Linked DNA regions of Homo sapiens: all the other regions are linked to region 4. Evidence: fine-mapped QTL for protein levels in blood plasma. Region 4 holds a variant in brackets. A gene starts in each other region. All regions are shown on their forward strands. Region 1 holds the start of MYBPC1 (myosin binding protein C1). Region 2 holds the start of MYL3 (myosin light chain 3). Region 3 holds the start of FABP3 (fatty acid binding protein 3). Region 4 overlaps TTN (titin).

What was found. A credible set is the group of variants that fine-mapping cannot tell apart. PIP is the chance, under the fine-mapping model, that this variant and not a neighbour inherited with it causes the effect. Protein levels are from antibody-based Olink assays in UK Biobank. Linkage for the fine-mapping came from a reference panel and not from the study's own genotypes, which makes the PIPs less certain.
Region 1: it holds the start of MYBPC1, and the variant in region 4 is the best candidate, but not a certain one, in a credible set for the plasma level of the MYBPC1 protein (UK Biobank, PIP 0.78).
Region 2: it holds the start of MYL3, and the variant in region 4 is the best candidate, but not a certain one, in a credible set for the plasma level of the MYL3 protein (UK Biobank, PIP 0.74).
Region 3: it holds the start of FABP3, and the variant in region 4 is the best candidate, but not a certain one, in a credible set for the plasma level of the FABP3 protein (UK Biobank, PIP 0.54).

Annotation. Positions count from the first base shown.
Region 1 is chr12:101,591,952-101,597,100 of GRCh38, forward strand. MYBPC1 (myosin binding protein C1) reads left to right here and starts at 3,020. Exons shown (of 32, transcript NM_002465.4): 1 at 3,020-3,144. The coding sequence starts at 3,120.
Region 2 is chr3:46,860,814-46,865,962 of GRCh38, forward strand. It overlaps MYL3 (myosin light chain 3), which reads right to left and starts at 2,631. Exons shown (of 7, transcript NM_000258.3): 1 at 2,449-2,631; 2 at 147-174; 3 at 1-12. The coding sequence starts at 2,577.
Region 3 is chr1:31,370,180-31,375,328 of GRCh38, forward strand. FABP3 (fatty acid binding protein 3) reads right to left here and starts at 2,897. Exons shown (of 4, transcript NM_004102.5): 1 at 2,763-2,897. The coding sequence starts at 2,835. LOC124903892 (a long non-coding RNA gene) reads left to right here and starts at 4,120. Exons shown (of 2, transcript XR_007065573.1): 1 at 4,120-4,208. RefSeq lists a silencer at 3,083-3,377.
Region 4 is chr2:178,565,041-178,570,189 of GRCh38, forward strand. It overlaps TTN (titin), which reads right to left. Exons shown (of 363, transcript NM_001267550.2): 326 at 1-5,149. The region is part of intron 1 of TTN-AS1 (TTN antisense RNA 1); the gene reads left to right. Among named protein-coding and RNA genes, the nearest start is that of TTN-AS1, 44 kb to the left of the region's middle. The variant A/G (reference allele first, on the strand shown) is at 2,418.

The sequences.
Region 1 (5,149 bases), not on the chromosome of region 4:
GGACCATGAGGTTACCAGGAGGATGGTAGAGCAAGAAGGAGGAGTCTGGTTTCCTGGATACACTGTGAAGCCACTGTATGACTCTAAGCCATTTGCTTTTAGACTTGCTTTATATGAGGGAGAAATACTTCTATCTTGATTCAACTGTTGGTATTTTGTAGTTTTGTGTTGTATTTGAACAAACTTCATCCTCAATAATACAAAAGGAAAAATCTAATACAGCATTTAGCAAAAGAAACAAAAGCCTGTTGACCATCCCCCTGTCTTTCCTGAGAGTACAGCTAAGGCATCTGCAACCTTCTAGATGAATGCATAAGATCTGAAATAGGAGTTATGTATTCCTAAAACAATATAGCCCTAGGAAAATTACACAAGTCTACTTGTTATCCTAATTTAAAATTTTACCTTAACCACCTGATACACTGTACAATAATTTGTCCTAGAATTTGTCCATACTTCCAATTCCTATAATAATGCTTTGCCTTTTTATAATTAATTCCTTTATTACCAAAAAGTTCCCCAGGTCATAAAATACTTTCTCTGTGGATTGCAATATTTCCTGGCATATGTTCACTTCAGTAAGACGATCAGTGTATTAAAAACCCAATGGGGTTTCTGCAGAAGCCAATGATGGCATGGCACCTCTTTTGTGGCATGTGTGAAATCTGCCCTTCGCTGTAAACATTCTTATGCAACATGACACTCTGCCCTATGTCCATTTCATATGTGGTGTTCAGTGTGCTGGGAATGCTGAAAAAAACAATTCTCTCTTAGAGATTTCCCAAGTAGAATCACAGTGTTAAACCTATCAGCAGCCTCCAAGATCATTTTTTTTAAGCCCCTCATTTTACACAAAAAGAAACTGAGGCCCAGAAAGCCCCCTGACTTTCTCAGAGTAACTAAGCTGGTTAATGATAGATCCAGAAATAGAACCCAAGGGACCAACTTCAGATTCTAGGTTCTTTCATATGTTTCATCTATTAATTGATATCCCCAGAGCGGACTCAGCAAAGGAACGTTTTTTTTTTTTAAAGTACAAAAATGTGTTCAGTAGTATAATGTGGTTAAGGAGGGGCTGTCTTTATAAAAGATGTTCATTACCATCTTGACTGGCTTCCTCCCCCTCCCCGCCACATAACTAAAGCATGATGCTATTGAGTTCTAAGTCTAGTTTCCACCCTTATATGAAAAGTCAGCTTGGCACAGAGTTTGGTAGAGCTAAGTCTGACCAGCTGCACTCTCAGCCACAAGGGAAATTAGACGAGACAGTGTGGCTGCTTCAGTACCAATCAATCAAAGTTTTTGAAAATTATCTTGAAAACACACACCAATAAAGGCATGTGTGTAGTTGTCTTTTCATATAAACTCAGGTTAGTCCTAGTGCATGTGAACAAAGAAAGTAAGGTGTCTTCTTCAGGTTGACTACTTGGTAGTTCCTATTTCTCTATCAGTTCCATGAGCGTTTTGGGAGAAAGTGACCACATCTACTACAGTCTTTCAACATCTTAAGTTAGATTTGTGTACCCTCCAATTGAATCACTTGAATCAAAACAATAGCTACTAGTCTATTTGACTTTCTTTGCCCAGGCCCCATATATATCTTTTTATTTTATTTTTATTTTTTGTAGAGACAGGGTCTTGGTTTGTTACCCAGGCTGGTCTCCAACTCCTGGCTTCAAGTGATCTTCCCACCTTGGCCTCCCAAAATGCTGGGATTATAGGCCCCAGCACTGCACCCAGCCTCCATATATATTTTTAAGTGTATAATCCAGTGGTTTTTAATATATTCACAAAGTTGTACAACCATCACCACTATCTAATGCCAGAACATTTTCATCATGACCAAAAGAAACCCCATATGCACTGGCAGTCACTCCCAATTCCACCTCCCTTAGGCCACTGGCAAACACTGATATACTTTCTCACCATATGGATTTGCCTGTCCTAGATATTTCATATAAGTGGAATTGTACAATGTGTGTTCTATTATTTTTTATTATTATTATTATTAATTTGAGATGGAGTTTCGCTCTTGTTGCATAGGCTGGAGTGCAATGGTACAATCTCGGCTCACCACAACCTCCGCCTCCTGGGTTCAAGTGATTCTCCTGTCTCAGCCTCCCGAGTAGCTGGGATTACAGGCATGCACCACCATGCCCAGCTAATTTTGTATTTTTAGTAGAGACGGGGTTTCTTTATGTTGTTCAGGCTGGTCTCGAACTCCTGACCTCAGGAGATCCACCCCCCTCAGCCTCCCAAAGTGCTGGGATTGCAGGCATGAGCCCAGCAGTGATCTATTATTTTATAGTCTACGTTTGTATGTCTGACTGACTTCTTTCACTTAGTGTAATGTTCTCAAGCTTCATCCACGTTGTAGCATGTGTCATTGCCTCATTCTTTTATATGTCCTATAATTTTGAAAAATGATGTTTTTGGAAAAAAATGCAAACGCAGAGTATCCCCTAATAGAAATCTTTGCTATTCTTAGAGAAGAACATGAGACAAGTTATTTAACCTAGAGATTTGGCTTGAAAAATTAATATTGACATATCAATGAGGAATAAGAAAAAATATAAATGCAATAATTAAGGACTGATGAAAATGAAAAGCTAATTGGAGCATAAAAGTGATCATCTGAATACAAAGACTTTTCTGCCTAATCTTAGTGAAAATTAAGGTATAGGTTGGATTGGCATATTATGATTTTTAATTTGTTTTTTTAATCATCCAGCAAACTTTTTGCACTCCTGAGTCAGCACATGCATCTGTCAGAGAGAGAAGAGCAAGACGGAGCACGAGGCTGCAGCTGAATTTAGAAAGTTAGAGGTGTTCTCATCAGCCACATGAGATGGGCAGGAGATTCCTTCCAGTAGGCGAGAGAGCAGAGTGCAGACAACAGATGTGAGAAAGGTCCCCATAGCTGTCAAGTTCCTGCATCCTTGTGCTGAAGAAAGGGAGGTGCCATCATGATTGATGTTCAGAGGCAGTATAAAAGCACTGGGTTTCTCCCCAACTGCTTGTCACACCGACCTGCACCATCTCTCGCCTGCCTGTGGGGTTTCTGTCAACTAGTCGTGGAGGGAAGGAGACTCTTTAAAGAATAACATCTTATTGTGGCCATGCCAGAACCCACTAAGAAAGAGGGTAAGACTTATCTAGAAATCTTTTTGTTGTACTCCTGAATAAAGTGTTTATTTTGGTATTTATCTTCAAACAAATAACAAATATCTTAACTAGATGAGAAAATAAAATCACTATGATTTAAGGAAACGATCTTTTAGATTAAACAGACCAGAGGAAAAATACAGCGAGAGTATATTGAATTGAAAAATTTCTGATAACGATAGTTTCTAAAGGGATATTGACTAAAATTATCAAATGATAATTCTATCATTCAATTGTAAAGAATCCTTAAAGTGTAATTTAAGGATGTTAATTGCTGATGGTAAACAGATTACGTTTTCAAGCATATTTTCTTAGATTTAATCACAAATTTTTTACCATGTATTTGCAATTTGCAGAGAGTAGGAGACTTAAAATATTTTCTCAAATGGTTAATACATTGGATCAAGATTTCAAAAAAGAATTTGTGACATTATTTCCATATTTGCTACTTTTTTTAATGGAAACATATTTAAAATATACAGACGAAGGGTTTTTTTTGTTCTTATCAGTGCCTTTGGAGGTTCGTTATTAAATTCTTGCATGGAAAGAAAACCAAACACCTGATAAAAAAGGATGTCCCTGAATATCATGAATAGATTGTTCTTTCATGAGTTTTATTGTAGAGAATTTCATAATATGTAGTAGGCTTTAAGAATAGTTAAGCTGAAAGTATAAAAATATTCTTCCTTAGAAGAAATGTTTTCCCTAACAAAGTTTCTCCTTTCTATAAAAAAATTAGTGTATTAAAGCTACCAATTGGTAACAGAAGTAAATTGGAATTAGTAGTTATGAAAATAAATAATAATAAGCACAAATTAATACTATGCATGCATTGAATTTAATTTTTAATTAAAATATCTTTTAAAAATATTATTTCATTTATATTCATCTTCATTAATGCTTACTGAATCTTTATTTTTCCCTTCTGCAAATAAAAGAAAAAGAAAGATTAGCAGGAAACATAAAAATAGTCATAGTTTTCAGTTTTTAATTCTTAAAAATGCTTTAGCTATTATTTTAAGGAACCTTGAAAAAGATGTTGAAATACTAACCAAATTATCAAAAGTCTTTTAAACATATTTTCTTTATATAATTAAGTAACCAGTGTTGACAGGCTGTGGTGATCAGTTTACAGGTTGGCCTTACTTAGTGGCAGAGGGCATTGATGGATGAAGTCTTTCACCCAAAATAACCACACCAAATGCATGTATTAATATGGGAACTTAATCCTGACTGTCAGGCAGGGAGTCCAACCCCTGCTAAAGTATCTTATTTGTAATGCAAATGATTTACGTGTGTACTAAGTGTCCTTTTTATCTGCTCTGTCACTTTAACCTCTCCGAAGTGTACCCAGAAGCAATACATTCTACCATGTTTCCAAACTGGAAACACAATATTGTTTTAATTATTCTGAATTTAGTGAATGATTTTGCATTTGTTTTTTTAAAGCCTAATTGAAAATGAGAAGAAAGCTGAAAAACCAATAAATAAGGTGACAGCCTGTAAGAGCCAATAAAGCTAATTAAATTATTCTGATCGCAAAGGCGATGAAGTTTACTTTTCATTTGACAACTCAGTCTGATTCACTCTTTTATGGGGAATGAAATTATAGAGCTGCAAAGAGGAAAATATATCTTTAACTTCAGCCCCCACCCCCCCAATATATATTTTTTTCTTTCTGAATAAAACAGCATGGATGCTAAAGACTCCATCATCTTCTTTTGCTATAAAAGCATGTTGCTATTCTGTGTAGGAGTTCCTCCACCCAGGACAGTAATTTTATACCCATAAATTCTTTGGTTAGTGTAAATTTGGATGATGGGGATTGGGGCAAGAAGAGTTACTGATATATTTAAAATCCATTGAGGAAGTACAGAGATTTTTTTGGTTCCCTTACCAGCAGAACTGATTCTTAAAGGAACTGTACCTTGAAAAGCTTTCCTTAGTGAAATAATTGCATTTTAATATTGTTTACATTAGAAGA
Region 2 (5,149 bases), not on the chromosome of region 4:
CTTCCTTGAACTCTGCCAGGAGAGGGCAGTGAGCCACAGACACTCCCAGGGTCAGCCTACCCCACTCCCCACACCCCTGGCAGGACCCTCAGACCAGGGAACCCCAGCCCAATCCTGCAACCCCTGGGTTCAAGACCCCTGCTCACCTTCAATCTGCTCAGGTGTGAACTCAATCTGAAAAGAGACCCCAAAGACTCAGATGCCCGGCTTAAAAGGTGGGGCCACACCTCCTCCTGGGCACTCGGTGGCCAGCCCAGAATGTCAACTGTCTCAGCCTGTCCCATTCCAGCATCCCAGCCTGCACCCCCAGGACCTCCTGCAGTCCATCTTGACGCCCTCCTGCCTCCTTGCCCCCCTCCACCTCTCCAGCCAGAAGGCCTTGAGGCTGTGTGCACCGAGGCCCTGATGCTCGGTGGACCCTGGCAGGGGTAGCAGTGAGGAGGGAGGCCACATGCCCAAGGCCTCAGGCCAGCGTGGGCCTTACCTGATGCTCCCGGTTCTGGACAGATGTACCTTAAGCCACAAGCCCCAGTCAGGCTGGCTTTGCTTGGGGCCTGGTGGGCAGGACTGTCAGCAAAAGTGAGATGGGAGGGCCCAGGGTGGTAGAAGGAGTAAGGGCAATGGTACAGGCCGAGGGCTGGTGGCTGGAAGCATCGAGGGTGAGCACAAGTGTGCATGTTTGTGTGTGAGCATGTGTCTACATACGTCTGCCCTCACAGAGCCCCCTAAGCCCTAAAGACCAGGCAGTCACTCACCAGCCCCACTATACCTATTTCTCACACACCCTGTCCGTAGGTCCCTGGGAAGCTCCCACACCCCAGGACAGCACAGGGCCAGGGCAGTGCTGCTGAGTGTTTGCTGAAGTCACATTGGGGCCACCTTGATTGACGTCAATCAAGAGGCCTCCCGGGATCCAGTGTCCCCCTCCTCACCGGATACCAGGTCTATTTTTATCACTGCAGTCACTCGCCCCAAGGTCAAGGTCACACAAGGGAAAGGAGGTTGGGGGAGGGGCATGACTGGCGTCTCTCTCATGGCTGCTGCCACGGAGCCCCACCAATCTCCACAGTGCATGCCGGCACAGAGGGACACCCTGTTCAGGGCCACCCTACCATGACTGTCCCTCCTGGCTTCTGGCTTGACCCAGTGTTGGGAAGAACAGGTTGTCATTCCTGGCTCCCTGAGAGCTCTCTCCACCAGGAAGCCTACTGAGATTAGGGTCTCTGGGCTCCTGGCAAAGGCTCCCTGCCCTTTACCTGCAACCTGGGGATGGGGGAAGAGGGCGCATGAGGGGTCTCATTGTCCCCACCTCTCAGAAGGAAGTCTGTGCCAACCTAAGGCCTGGCGAGAAAGGACAATGCCACTATGGGCCGTGGCTGTGGTCACAGCCTCACCATGAGGCCTGCAGAATGCAAGCCTGGGACCTGGGTGGCCAACTCCAGGTGCATATACTCTGAATGGTTCCCAGCAGCCCTGCAAGAGGGGACTTGCTGTTCTGTTTCACAGCTGAGGAAACCACGCCTCAGAGCAGCGAAGAACTTGGCAACTAAAATGGAGCAGAGTTGGGATTTGAACCCTTGCCTCAAAGGACATGGTAGGTGTCTCTGGGAAGGGCTCATGAACAGGAGGCAAGACTTCACCGATGGAATGTAGGTCCTGCTGGGCATGCAGGGATGGCGAGGGTTCCACAGGGCTCCTGAGGAGGCAGCCAGGGCAGCAGTGGTCCCAGCCAAGAACAGGGAGCAGGCAGGACACAGGGTACGTGCTGCTATGCAGATACCACAGGTGGGAGTCATGGCTCCCTCCAAGTTTAGACTCTGAGAAAGACTTTGCAGTTGGGGAAGGGCTCCTGGGGCCACTGGTCATAGCTCCATGACCAGCTTCCTGCACAGCTTTCAGAATGTCCCCAGCCAGCTGATGCTTCAAGTTCCCTACCTAAAAGCTGAGGCCTGGAAGTGCTCTACCAGCTCTGGGCTCGGTGATTTGAACGAGACCCAGCCTGGACAGGGGCCCTGCTTCTTCTTACTCCCTATCTCATCCACGCTGGGAGCGTGTATGGACTTGGGACCCCTCAGCTGAACAAGGAAAATCCCTGCCTGGCTCCAGCTGACTCCAGGATTCCCCAAGGATGAGAAGTCCAGGAAGAAGGGCAAGGGAGAGTCCATTTCCAAAACCACTAAAAAGACAGTCCAGACTCAAACCCCAGTCTAGACTCCACCTTAGTTCTCAGCAGCACCAGAGGAGTCCTGCAGAACGTCTGACCACCATCCCTCCTGCTGCAGCCCTTCTGATGCCTGAAGCAGTCAGGGCTTGTCTGACCTCTGCACAGAAGCTTCCAGCGTCAGCTCAGTGCTCACCTCCAGAGCCTGACCTGCCTCTTGCTAGGTCCACTCTGGGATCCACTCACTTGCCCTGCTCCTATTGCCACCACCCAGCTTCCATACCCACCTTGATCTTGGAAGCATCAAACTCGACCTCCTTAGGGCGCTCAGGCTCAGGGGGAGGTGCGGGAGCTGGAGCTGCCTTGGGGGCTGCCTTGGCATCATCCTTCTTGGGCTCTGGCTTTTTGGGGGCCATTGGGGGCTGTAAGTACAGAGAGGGATGTGGAGAGAAGAATGCAGAAAGCAGGGTAGGTGAGCCGCCTCACCCAGGCCTTTATCCTGCCCGGATACCTCATGACCCCAGCCCCACCCCTGCAGTGCACAATAGGGACAGGGCCATAAAAGGATATGGCTAGGCTTAGGGGCTATTTTGGGGCCTGGGGAGGGCATTGTTCAGGCTCAGGAATGGGTAGTGGAGGAGGGATCTCCATTCCTCCCAATCACCTGTTGGGAAGGGGGAGGGAGAGAGGGGGACAAAGGCCACTGCTTAACACACACATACACACATACACACACACTCATCTGCACACCCGCACATACCCACACAGGGCCCTGCTGCCTCTCTGCAGGTCCGTAAGTTGAAGAGGTGAAGAAGGGTGGACCAAGTACATGCTACGTGTTGTGTTGGGGCCAGAAGGACTGGGATGATCTAAGGGCACCTCTGAACTTAAGCTCTCCAAAGTCCCCTGTGTCTGTGTCTGTGTCTATGACCGTGTCCATGTGGGGGAAGGCGGAAGTCAGCATGTGTCTGTGTGTGTTGTCTGTGTCTGTGTCGGGGTGTCTATGTGTCTGTGGGTCTCTCTGTGTCTGTGTTTGTGTGGAGGGGGGTCTGTGTACACCTGTGTGTATTGTCTGGGTGCCTCCGTGGTGGGGGGCTCTGTGCGTGCCTATGTGTGCTCCGTATCTGTGTCTATGTAAGGGATGGCCCGGGTGTCTGCATTTGTCTCTGTGGGTCTGGGTCTTTATGTGTGCGTGGTGTGTCTATGTGTCTATGTGAGTGTGTCTGCGGGTGTTGCTTCTGTGTGTTTATGTCTGGGTGTTTACATGTGTCTGTATGTGAGTGTCTGGTCATGGCAGGCAGCTGTAGCCCTGGCTATGGGTCCAAGGGTCTCCAGGAACCCCCACAAAGGGCAAGAGAAAGGATGCTGCTCCCTCTAGGGCAGTCGCCCCAGGCCAGTTCAGCAGCCTCCCTCTTCAGCCCCTGCTGGCCCAGGGACCAGTTTCTCAGCTTTCACCCCTAGATTCCTACTTCCCCTCTCTACAGGCCCCAGGGATGCACATTTCCCTACACACCCCAGGCCTGGCTCCCCACTGCACCCTCTGCCCAGAGTGCCCTCGCCCCCTCTGCCTGACATATTCAAGGCTTGGCTCTACTGGCCCTCTTCCAGAAAGCTCTCTCCAATGCTATTCCACTGCCACATGTTGCCCTCTGCCGACCCTTTTGGCAGGGGCTCTGAGAGGGTCTGCCTCTCTGAGGAACCCCAAGCTGCCAAGCAGGGTCTGCCCCAGTGCAGTGATGCTCATTCCCTGTTCCTACCACTCAGTGCCCACCCCCAGTGCCCATCCTGCAGTGCCCGGCCCCCAGGGTCCATCCCAAGCCCAGCCTTCAGCAGATGACAGTGACAGAGTACAGCCTGACGGGACTGCCACTTGGGGAGGTGGGAGGGCTGAGGTGGCACAAGGCTCTTCCCGCATGGGGACGCCAACAGTGGGGACATCTTGTAAACACATTGGGCTCTGTTCCTTGCCCAGCATCTGTGCCTGGGGGGTGGGAAGGAGGTGCTCCTGGTTACTTTTAAGTGCCTGGAGCCTTTGATAGAAACTTCAAAGCCAGGGATTTCCCTGGTGTGGCAAGGGGCTAAGCCTGAGGCTGAGAGGTGCTGTGGGGCCCAGGGCCTCTACCTGGCACGCCCTGCTGTCTTCCTACTGGGCCCAGTCCCTCTCATCCTGTCACTCCGCCTCACAGGGAGGGACAGCAGTCCAGGGCTGGGGCCAGCCCGCTCCTGACTGGAACACGTTCTGCCTCTCATCTGGAGGGCAGAACACCCACATCTGGAAATCTGACAACATCCGGGACTGGCGGGGGGGCAAGTTTTTCACTTTTCTTCCAAATGTTTGGCAACAGTATTGAGAAAGAAAGGGGTGGGGGGATGGTCAGTGGAGACGAGCCAGAAATACCACAAGAGGAGAAGACAGCCAGAGGGCCACACAGAGGGGCCCCGGGGAGGCCCCACCACCCAGGCCTGCCGACCCTCAGGACAACGGGCTCTGGAAGTCACACGGGAGCCCCAGCCACCCACAGACACCGCCAACAAGACCAATTTCCTTGTGTTCATCATGAGGGAAGCAGAGGGCCAGAGCAGAGGACATATACAGGGCCCTCTCTCCCATCTCATTTCTTTCATCCTCACACAATTACCACCCCTTGGAAACCACCCAACGTTGGCCCAAATGGGGGTAAGCCAGTGACAAGAGCATCCTGGGCCTCAGTGTCCAGGTCTGTGATCTGGGATGGGCAGGCTCATGCAGCCAGCCAGAGCCACATAGTGCCACCTTCCTCCACCTGTGTGTGGCAGAGTCAAGGCAGTGGCTTGGGCCCCTCCTGTCACACACAGGGCAAACGTGGTCCTGCAGCAGGGACAGGGTGCACAGAGCCATCCTCACTCCCTCATCAGGACCCAGATGAAGGCTAGGGCCAGGATGGTGACTGCCTGAGCTCTGATTCTGGGCATGTCCCTGCTGGCTTGGGAACAACAGTGCCCCAGGAC
Region 3 (5,149 bases), not on the chromosome of region 4:
TTCTTCCTGTTCTTCTGAAGACTGTTTCCACGTTACAGATACAAAAACAGAGGTAAAGCCCAGGGTCACAAATCTGAGATTGAAGCCCAGAATTGTCTGAGTCCAGAGCTTGCTTAAGTGCTCAGCTATACTACCTCCCAAGGCTGGAGCATAAGGCTGCCTTCCAGGGCACCTGAAAAGCTCTCAAAGCCTTAGGAATAAGGCTGAGGAAAGAAGAGAAACATAGACTTTCCCTTCCAAAGCCTTAGGCATAGGAGTTTTCCAACTTTGGAAGTTTTTACCCTGAAACTAAGAAGTGTTAGTGCTCTTGTCCCTTATACATGGCAACCCATCATTTTCAAAGCCTGTTATCTATGATCTAGGAGTTAGGTACAAAGGAAGTATTTGTCCTATTGTGCAGATTCAGGAGGAGCCTAAAGCGGTAGCAACAATGAGTTAGACTCAAACCCGTCTCCTGACTCCCAGTCTAAGGCTTTACAGAGACTCTCTTCCTGACCCAAGCATGGCTTCCTTGGGTACTGGGCAAAGTCCTAAGTGTCCTGCAACCAAGTAAAGAACAAAGAACTAATCATGACTGCCCCCTCTCCCCCCAGCAGCTTAACATTGAACTGTCTTCCAAGGCAAAGGTGAGGCAGGAGGCAGCCCAGTGTAGTGAGGTGGTGTGTGTAAAGTCTCCAAATGTACCTGGCTACATAGTGCTTGCTGGAAGCTAGGTACTCTGCACATGCCCTACATGGGTTGTTTTACTTAATGCTTGTAACAGCCTCGAAGCGTAGATTATCCCCAGTTTACAATGAAGAGTGCGAAGTGTCTTGTCGAAATTCAAAGAGAATAAACTACTGACATAGATTTGAACCTCGGCTCCAAAACTGTTGACTATTTTCACTGGGCGATTCTGTCCAGCACATACTCAATCCAGGCCAGCAGTTGTGCCTGTGGTCACTGGTACTAGACGGGACCTCTTTGCCCCTTGAGAGCCCTAGGTCTACAGCAGGAGGGGCAGGGGCTGCCTCTGCTGTTATGCTGTCAGCCCACCCTTGCTTGGCCAGTGAGGAACTTGGCATTGCCCCTTGGTATCAGGATGAGTCAGGCCAATCACACTCCCTTGCACAGAGCAGGACCTTGTCACGGCACTGGGAGCTCTGTTCACTTAGGATCTACCCAGAGGTATGGAGTGTTTGAAAAGGAAACCACTGCGGGATGAGTGAGGGTCTGAACCAAGAGAAACTAAGAATATTGAGCTGACAGAATTTAGGAGACTCAGGGAGATCTGGGTTCTACTTAGAAATGAAGCCAGCACTACTTACTGAGAGCTGAGGAGGGTATTTTCCCAGGCTTTCCATTCCTACGATGAGAATGCTGGCTGCCTTAACATAAGCTGCTGAAAGATAACAGGACTTCAGGGAGACCAGCCCGCTGACCCAACTCGGGGCAGAATAAGGGAACAAGAATGGTAAAGTTGTTGCAGCTCAATTCAAGACTCAGCTCTGGCCCAGCTTTGGAAGGAGGAACTAAATCTGGGCATTCCAACTTCCCAATAGCTGCTGGGCTGTGTTCGTGGGGGCTGGGGGCTGCTCCTCTAAGAATGACTGCCTGCCTAGAATTACTGGGCATAGCGCCCAAGATAGGGTAGAGGCCGTTGAGAGCTTTGACCTCTCCATCTAAGCCCAAAGCAGTAGAAGAAGGGCTGAGGTCAATCATTAGCTAAGCAGTTTCTACTTTTCTTCCCACTCGCAGGGCCTGTAGGGTAGTGGGAAGAGCTCTGGGTTACAGATCTAGAAACCTTAGATTTTCATATTGGCTCTGCTGTGGAATTGTTATAATACATTTCTACTCTCCTGGTTTCAGTTTCCCTGTTGAACTAGATGGTATGGGAATCTCCAAGTTCCTCACCTGTGAGATTCTTTGAATCCTGATTCTTCTCCATCCCAACACCACAGCAGTTCTCCACATCCTCCTAAACCAGTGATCCTCCCTCCCAGGTCTTGACCTTGCCTTGGGACCCTCTACTGCACATCAGAAGTCCAATGGCTTTCTCTGCCTACCCCTCGCACAGATAGGTGAGCCTTGGGTTGCAGGAAAGGCCCAGCTGATCATGGGCCTCTTGCCCCACCCTACCACGAGGCTCACAGACAGTGATGAAGGCCTGGATACATAGACTGCAGGACAAGGTCAGACTGGCTGGTGAGAAAGGGCATTCTCCAGCAAGAATTCTCTTCCCTAACCAAGCAGAGATGGGGATTGCTGCTTACTGCAGGTTCCTGTCTTACGTCCTTCTCATATCTGATTCACTGATCCACAGTTTTTTCCCCACTAATCTTTTTCCTCCTAGGTATTTCCTACTTGTTTACATCATTGTACACTCCCTGGCTGCCCCATTCCCTTTCTGGGTTCAGTCTCCTCCAATTTCTAAACTACCCATGCCCCTGTTCTTTTTCTCCCCTGGCTACACTCCCTTTCCTGTGATCAGTGTTCTTTATCCAAACCCTCCTCCTACCTCCAAATCACATATCCCTCTTCCTGGAAAGAGCCTCCCACACAGCTGCCTCCTTCCACCACCTCCCTACCGTGGTCTCTAACCAGATTTGGACCACCAAAGCCCCCTCTGAACAGGCCCCACCTGCTCTAGGCCAGGCTGCCATCTCCGCGCTCCCCTATTCCCCAGTCTTAACCAGGAGGGATGCGGCAGGAGTGCTGCGTGGGGCTAGGCACGCCACCAGCCAGTCCCCAAGCCAACATCCTGAGCCCCGCGGCTTGCTCACCGAGTGACTTCATGTAGTCATCGAAATTCTTGCTGTCCACTAGCTTCCAGGTGCCCAGGAAAGCGTCCACCATAGTGATGCTGGGCTAGGCTGAGAGAAGCTACAAGAGAGCAGGCGTGCAAGGGCTCCGACGGCGGCTCCCTGCCCGGGCTGCCGCTTTAAATAGCCCTCGCATCACATGAGGAGACGTGGCCCACGCCCCCGGCTCCCGAAATAGGAAGCCCCAGGCTAGGGCTCACCCAGGAGGGGCTGGTGCGCCCATCCCCCAACCCACCGAGGTGGGTGGGGACCAGCCAGTGGCGCCCTGCTAGCCTGCGTCAGCGCCAGTGCCTGGCCCCCGAGTCCCTACCCCAGGCTGGTAGGACCTTCTCCCTTTCCTGGCCTCTAGGCACTCTGGAATCTGAGAAGGAAGCAGCCAACACCAGCCCGAGAGCTAGGGCGCATGCCATGGTGGATATCTTCCCGTCCCCCAGTCCCTCTTTGAGCTTAGCGTCAGAGCAGAGATGAGACTAGAAAAGCAAAACGCCCTTGGGCTGGTGCCCACGCCGGGGAAAGCTCTGGTTGACTTCTGGCACGGGCATCTGTCCTCGTTTTACAAGTGAGGAGTCCGAGGCTCACAGGGGAACTGACAAGGTCTCAAGAAATAGGAGGGGGTGAATGGAGCTCAGATTGCAAGCTTAGTCTAGCGGGCTTCAGAGCTCGCGCTCTCCCTTCACTCTCACTGCCTGGTGGCGGAGACAGTCACCAGCGGCTCGGTCTGCGGCTGAGCTGACCTTGTCCTCTGCCTGTTTTGAGCAAAAGCCTGACCCTTCGCGCCCCGCCCGCCTCACACGTGCTTGCCCCTCCCTGCGGAATGTCTCCTGCTGGCCCTCCTCCGTCCCCACCCCACCCCACCATCTAGCTCCCCACCCGCCCCTGCAAGTGCTCTGGGCTTTTCCGGTTTCTTCGCACAGCTCCGAGCTTTAGCTCAGGTCGTTCCCAGCTCCCCTCCTGCAGAAATTCTGCCAATTCGGTCAGCTCTTCAAGGCCCATGGCTGCCTTCCCCACCTGCCGCCCTTTCTTTGGCCTGTGCACACTAGCAAGCCGCCTGCACTTTTGGGTAATTTGCTGCCTCCTTTCGAGAGCCTGTTGTGCGGTGGTTTGTCACTGTATAGTTTACTAAGCACTTTCAGTAAAAATAAGACCTGCCTTGTCTTGCTATTTATTGCATGCTGAGGGCTTTGGGTGTATTGTTTCATTGAACTTTTTATTTTATTATTATTTTTTAGAGACAAAGTCTCTCGCTGTGTCTCCCAGGCTGGAGTACTGTGACGCCATCATAGCTCACTGCAGCCTCAAACTCCGGGGCTCAGGGGATCCTCCTACCTTAGCCTCCCCAGCAGCTGGGACTATAGGCACACGCCACCACACCTGGCCTCATTGGACTTTTAAAGCAAAATCCATGAAGTAGGTGTTACTGTATTATTTTCTCTTTTTAAAAAGGTGAACAAGTTGAAGCTCTGAGGAGCTCACTCATTAATTCAGCAGTTAATAAAGCACCTACTTTGTGCCAGGCCCTGCTTTGGAGAGAGACAACAGGGAACAAGACACACATTCACCTCTGGGCAGCCAGACATAAAACTAGCGTGGTGCCTCTAAAGGGAGTCCTGTCCTGTCCTGACCTGAGGGCCCAATGTAGACTTCTCAAAGGAAGTGAGGTATAAATGAATTTCTGAGGGATGGCAGGAGGCCCTGCACACCAAGGAGTAGTGCCGAACTGAATTTCAGCCAGCAGCAGCCTGTCCAGGGTGGGCCTGCAGGAGCCAACACAGGAGCCCAGAGGCCTGCCACGTGCGTAGAGTATGGCAGGCCCTCCTTCCTGGGACTCTGTTTCTCCATGTGCAAACCCTGCCTCCCTTCCCTGGACTGTTCTGAGAACAAGGCCAGGGAGGAAGAGCCCTCTCCCCACCCTAAGATCTTGATTCCTTTGGACGGTCCAGTTGCCAGAAGACTCAGAGGCTCATTTCTGCCAAAGCTATAGGGACAGGCTTCAGGGCTGGGCATGGAGCCTTGGTGATCTCACTGTTGGAACAGGTGCCAGGAGAGGAGGAGGGGGAAAAGATGATTTCTGACTCAAGGTCGCAGCCCTCACACATAGGGCCTCCTCTCAAGGACTGTGTGGCCAGGAACTAGAACTGACTCCTTATGTGGCCCTTGTAATGCAATGATGGAGAGCTGGGGCTGGGCTAATGGCTGCTGGCAGATCTGCGTTCTGATCTGAATTTTGTTGGGTACTAGCTGTGTGGCCTTGGGCAATTCACTTAAGCCATTCTGAGTCTCCATTTTTTTTTTTTTTTTTTTGAGAAGGAGTCTCGTTGCCCAGGCTGAAGTGCAGTGGTGTGATCTTG
Region 4 (5,149 bases):
TTGTTCTTGCAACTGTTGCTGATACCATGTGCCAAGTGGTGGTGGTTGTATCTCGCTTCTCTACAATGTAGTTGCTTATTTGGCAGCCACCAGTATAGGCTGGAGGTTCCCAAGATATGACTACAAAGTCTGCACTAACTTCATCAAACCGAACTGGGCCAACTGGAGGTCCAGGCTTTTCTAAAACGATAACACTGAGATTTTCTGTTGCTGTGCCTGCACTATTTGTTGCCGTTACGGTGTATTTTCCAAAGTCATCTTTGTTACCTTCTTTAATGTGCAAAACAGTTGAGGTAGCTGTTTCTTCAACGTTTACTCTTGTTGTCTGTTTAAGAGGCTCACCATCTTTGACCCAAGAAATGTTAGGTCTTGGTCGGCCTATAACTGGAATTTCTATTTTAAGATCTTCTCCAGCTTGGATACTATATGTGTTAAATGGTAACTTTAAACTAGGCTGTATAGTCAAGTCCTTGGCTATGACAGGAACACCCAACACTCTTGGATCGCTTTTTCCTTTCTCATTATAAGCCTTGACACGGAACTGATATTCTTGTCCAGAACTCAAACCAGTAACAACTGCATTACAGACTTTGGATTCAGCCACAATGCTCCATTTTTCAGTTCCTTTGGGCTGCATTTCAACAACGTACCCCAGGACTCTGCTACCGCCATCATGTTCAGGTTTCTCCCACATAAGTGATGCACTGGTCTGGGACACATCAGTGAGTGTAACCTTTCCTGGTGGGGAAGGAGGTTCAGCAGCTTTCACGGCATCAACAGTTTCCACTGGAACACCAACTCCAAATTCATTTTCAGCCATGACTCTGAAGTAATAAATGGCTCCTTCTGTAAGGTTTTCCACTTTAAAACTTGTTTTGCTGCATTTACTACTCACATTAGCATACGCTTTTCTGGTTGACTCACGTTTGTCAATCACATAGTTCTTGACCTTTGCCCCTCCATCAATGATGGGTGGCTCCCATACCAGGAAGGCAGAATCTTTTCTCACTTCTTTGACTGCCAAATTCTGTGGTGGTCCTGGAGTGTCAAGAACTTTCACAGTTACAAAAGCAGACTTTGATCCACTGCTGTTTTCCAACTTAAGAATGTATTTTCCAGCATCATTTCTATCACAGTTATCTATTGATAGTTGGGTATAGTTTACTCCCTTTTCAATTTGGACCTTATCTGTGAATTCACCTTCCTCTCGAGACCAAGTGATCTCAGGCGTTGGACGACCTTTGAATGGAATGTGAATTCTGGCAGATCCACCAGCTCTTACAACAATTCCTTTTCTTAATTCGGAGTCAAGGTCAAGTTCAGGTGCTTCAAGTTTATCTTCTGGTTTCACAGTACCAGGAACTGATGTAGCCTCACCTAAACCAACTTTGTTGAGGGCACAGACTCGTATTTTATACTCTTGGTGTTCAGTGAGTTTTGAAATTTCAAATCGAGTGACTCTCAGGCCAGTCTGTGGAGTAACTATTTGCCATTCTTCTTCATCTGCTTTACAGATTTCTACTACATATCCCAAGATCTCACTGCCGCCATCATAGATGGGTTTACCCCAGGCAAGTGTGATTGAATTTTTAGTGGTGTCTACAATGTGTGCATTGGTAGGTGGGCCAGGTTTGAACACAGGATCACAGGCTTTATAATAAACTGTAGCTGGACTTGGTTCCCCAACTCCAGCAGCATTTTCTGCAGAGACCCTGAATTCATACTCATGATCTTCTGTTAATCCTGTCACTCTTAGACGCAAATCTGTAATGCGGCGTTTATTACATTTTATCCATCGAATGCCACTTCTGTCTCTTTTCTCTACAATGTAACCAATAATCTCACTTCCACCATCACTATCTGGACGGTTCCAACAGACGGTCATGGAGTCTTTGGCAATATTTGTGACTTCCAAGCTTTTTGGTGGTCCAGGAAGCACAAATGGATTTTTCATTAGTACTGGTGCAGATTCCAAAGGCTCTCCAACACCATATTTGTTGACAGCCATTATACGGAAAACATATTCATTACCTTCTAAGAGTTTGGTAACTTTCAGAGAATTGGTCACAACTTCTGAAGCAACAACAGTCCAGGCAAGTCGACTGGTTTCTCGCTTTTCAACAACATAGTGAGAAATGTCACTGCCACCATCTTGAAGTGGTGGAGACCATGTTAAAGAGCATTTTTCAGAAGTGACTCCAGTAACCTGGACTGGCCCTTCTGGAGGTCCTGGTCTATCTAATACTTTTACATTTACTGGGAATGACTTAGAACCTGCAACATTGGAAGCTCTTAAAATATACTGCCCACCATCAATTCTAATTGCATCTTTTACAATAAGTAAAGCCTTGAAATCTGTGTTCTTTATTTCACATCTAGCAGATTCTTCAATTTCCTTATCTCCTCTTAACCACTCA[A/G]TGGTAGGTAGGGGCTTTCCATGGACATCAGCCTCAAGTCTGAATGTTTCTCCAGCATTTACCACAATTGTGTCTCTGAATTTTGGATCCATTGAAATTCTTGGGAGTTCAACCTCATCCTTGGCAGTTATTGGTCCAGTACTGTCAGAGGGTTTACTTATTGCACCAGCTGCATTCTTTGCAATGACTCTGAATTCATATCTTTGATCTTCAGTAAGACCTGACACAGTAAATTGAGTTTCAATGACATTTGTAAAGCTAGCTTTCATCCAACGACCATCAGGCAAATCACGTTTCTCTACAATGTAGCCTGTAATCATACTTCCACCATCATACACAGGTTTGGTCCACTGTAAAGTGATTTCATTTCTTTTAACCATTATTGGTTCTGGGGTTCCTGGTGGGTCACAGGGATCTCTGGCTACATAGCATTCAGAATTCTTGCTTGCTTTGCCTACACCAACAATATTTTCAGCATACACTCTGAATTCATATTCAATGCCTTCTTCAAGATTCTGTGCTTTGAATTGGGTGTCATGAATAATAGTTTTGTTGACCTTTGTCCACAAAATACTGTTTCTTTCTTTTCTCTCCAGGTGGTAACCTATGACGGGGCTTCCACCATTGTTGACTGGTTCATGCCACTGTATGACCATGGAGTCTTTGGAAATGGCTGTGGCAAATGGTGTACCTGGAGGGCCTGGTTCTTTGTAGGGATATTGAGCTACAATTGGATCAGACTCTAAGGCAAAGCTTTGTCCATATCTGTTTTCGGCAAATATTCTAAATTGGTATTCTGTACCAGTTTTCAGTTTGGTCACTTTGAGTGTAGTTCTAGCAACAGTAGCAGAAACAACATCCCATACTGTGGTGGTTGTATCTCTTTTCTGAACAATGTAGTTGGTGATTTGGCAGCCCCCTGTATATAATGGAGGGTTCCAAGATAATGTAATACTTTCAGCACTGACGTCATCAAATTTAACAGGTCCTTTTGGAGGATCAGGTTTATCTAGAGTTACAATTTCGATGGATGCTGTCTTCTGACCAACAACATTGGCAACTGTGATTCCATATTGTCCACCATCATCCTTATGAGTTTCTTTAATACTGAGTGTGGTGAGATCCAGTGAATCGGTAACATTGATTCTTGTGGTCTGCTTCAGTGGGAGACCATCTTTAGTCCAGGTAATGGTTGGCTTAGGACGTCCAGAAATTGGCACTTCTATTTTCAAATCTTGGCCAACCTGTACACTGTAACTACTGAATGCAGGTTTTACATCTGGCTCAATTACCAGATCTTTGGCAACTATTGGAACTGCAAGGGACCGAGGATCACTTCTCCCCTTTTCATTTACAGCAACAACTCTAAAAAGATATTCTTCCCCTTGAGTTAGGTTGGTAATTACTGCCTGAAGAGACTTTACTCGAGCACACTCTGACCATTTCTCACTGTGTTTAGCTTGCATTTCCACAATATACTGAATGATTTTACTGCCACCATCATGTTCAGGTTTTGTCCAACTCAGAGAGACACTGTTTCTGGTGACATCATCCACAGTTATTTTTCCAGGAGGTTGTGGCACTTCTGCAACCTTAATTGGATCAGCAGTCTGGGCAGGAAGGCCAATACCATACTCATTCTCAGCTGTGACTCTAAAGTAATAACTGCAACCTTCTTGGAGCTGATCGATTTTCCAAGAATTCTTATGGCAGTTAGTTACAACAGCAGCATATGATTTTCTTGTGGCTTCACGTTTCTCAACAATGTAATTTTTTATTTTGGATCCCCCATCCAACAAAGGAGGTTCCCATGTAATTGATACTGAGTCTTTGGTGATTTCTGTGACTTTCAGGTTAACAGGTGGACTTGGCGTGTCCAGAACTCTCACAGTAACAAAGGCAGACTTTGTTCCACTGCTGTTTTCTAATGTAAGCGTATATTTTCCACTATCATATCGGTTGACATTGTCAAGAACAAGAGAGGTGAAACTGCTAGTGACATCAATTATAGCTGCATCTCGGATTTCACCATCCACCTTTCCCCATTTAACTTCTGGTGTAGGACGACCTTTTATAGGAACAAATAACCTTAAGGAGCCACCTGCCCTTATATTTATGATTTTCCTTAGTTCTAGGTCAAGATCAATGTCTGGTGCTTCTAATTTTTCTTCAACTATAATAGGTCCAGGGACGTCAGCATGTTCTCCAACTCCAGCTTTATTAATAGCACAGATACGGAAGTTGTATTCATGCTTTTCCAACAGCTTCTCTACTTCTATGTTTGTTTTATTAATTCCTGTTGGTGGAGTGCACATTGTCCATTCACCAACACTCACATCACATTTTTCAACAATGTATCCTTGAATTTCACAGCCACCATCATATATTGGTTTGCTCCAAGAAAGGAATACTGAAGATCTGGTTATGTCTATGACTTTGGGGTTGTTTGGGGGTCCTGGTTTATAAATAGGATCACAAGCCTTTTGGTAAGCAGAAGGAGGGCTTGGTTCACTAAGTCCAGCAGCATTCTCAGCAGAAACTCTGAACTCATAATCGTGATTTTCTATGAGTCCAGTTACTCTCAGGCGCAACTCTCCAATCAGACGCTTATGGCATCTTGTCCATCTAATGCCTTCTTTATCCCGTTTCTCAAGAACATATCCAAGAATTTCACTACCACCATCAGATGCTGGTCTTTCCCATACAACAATCATTGAGTCCTTGGTCACTGT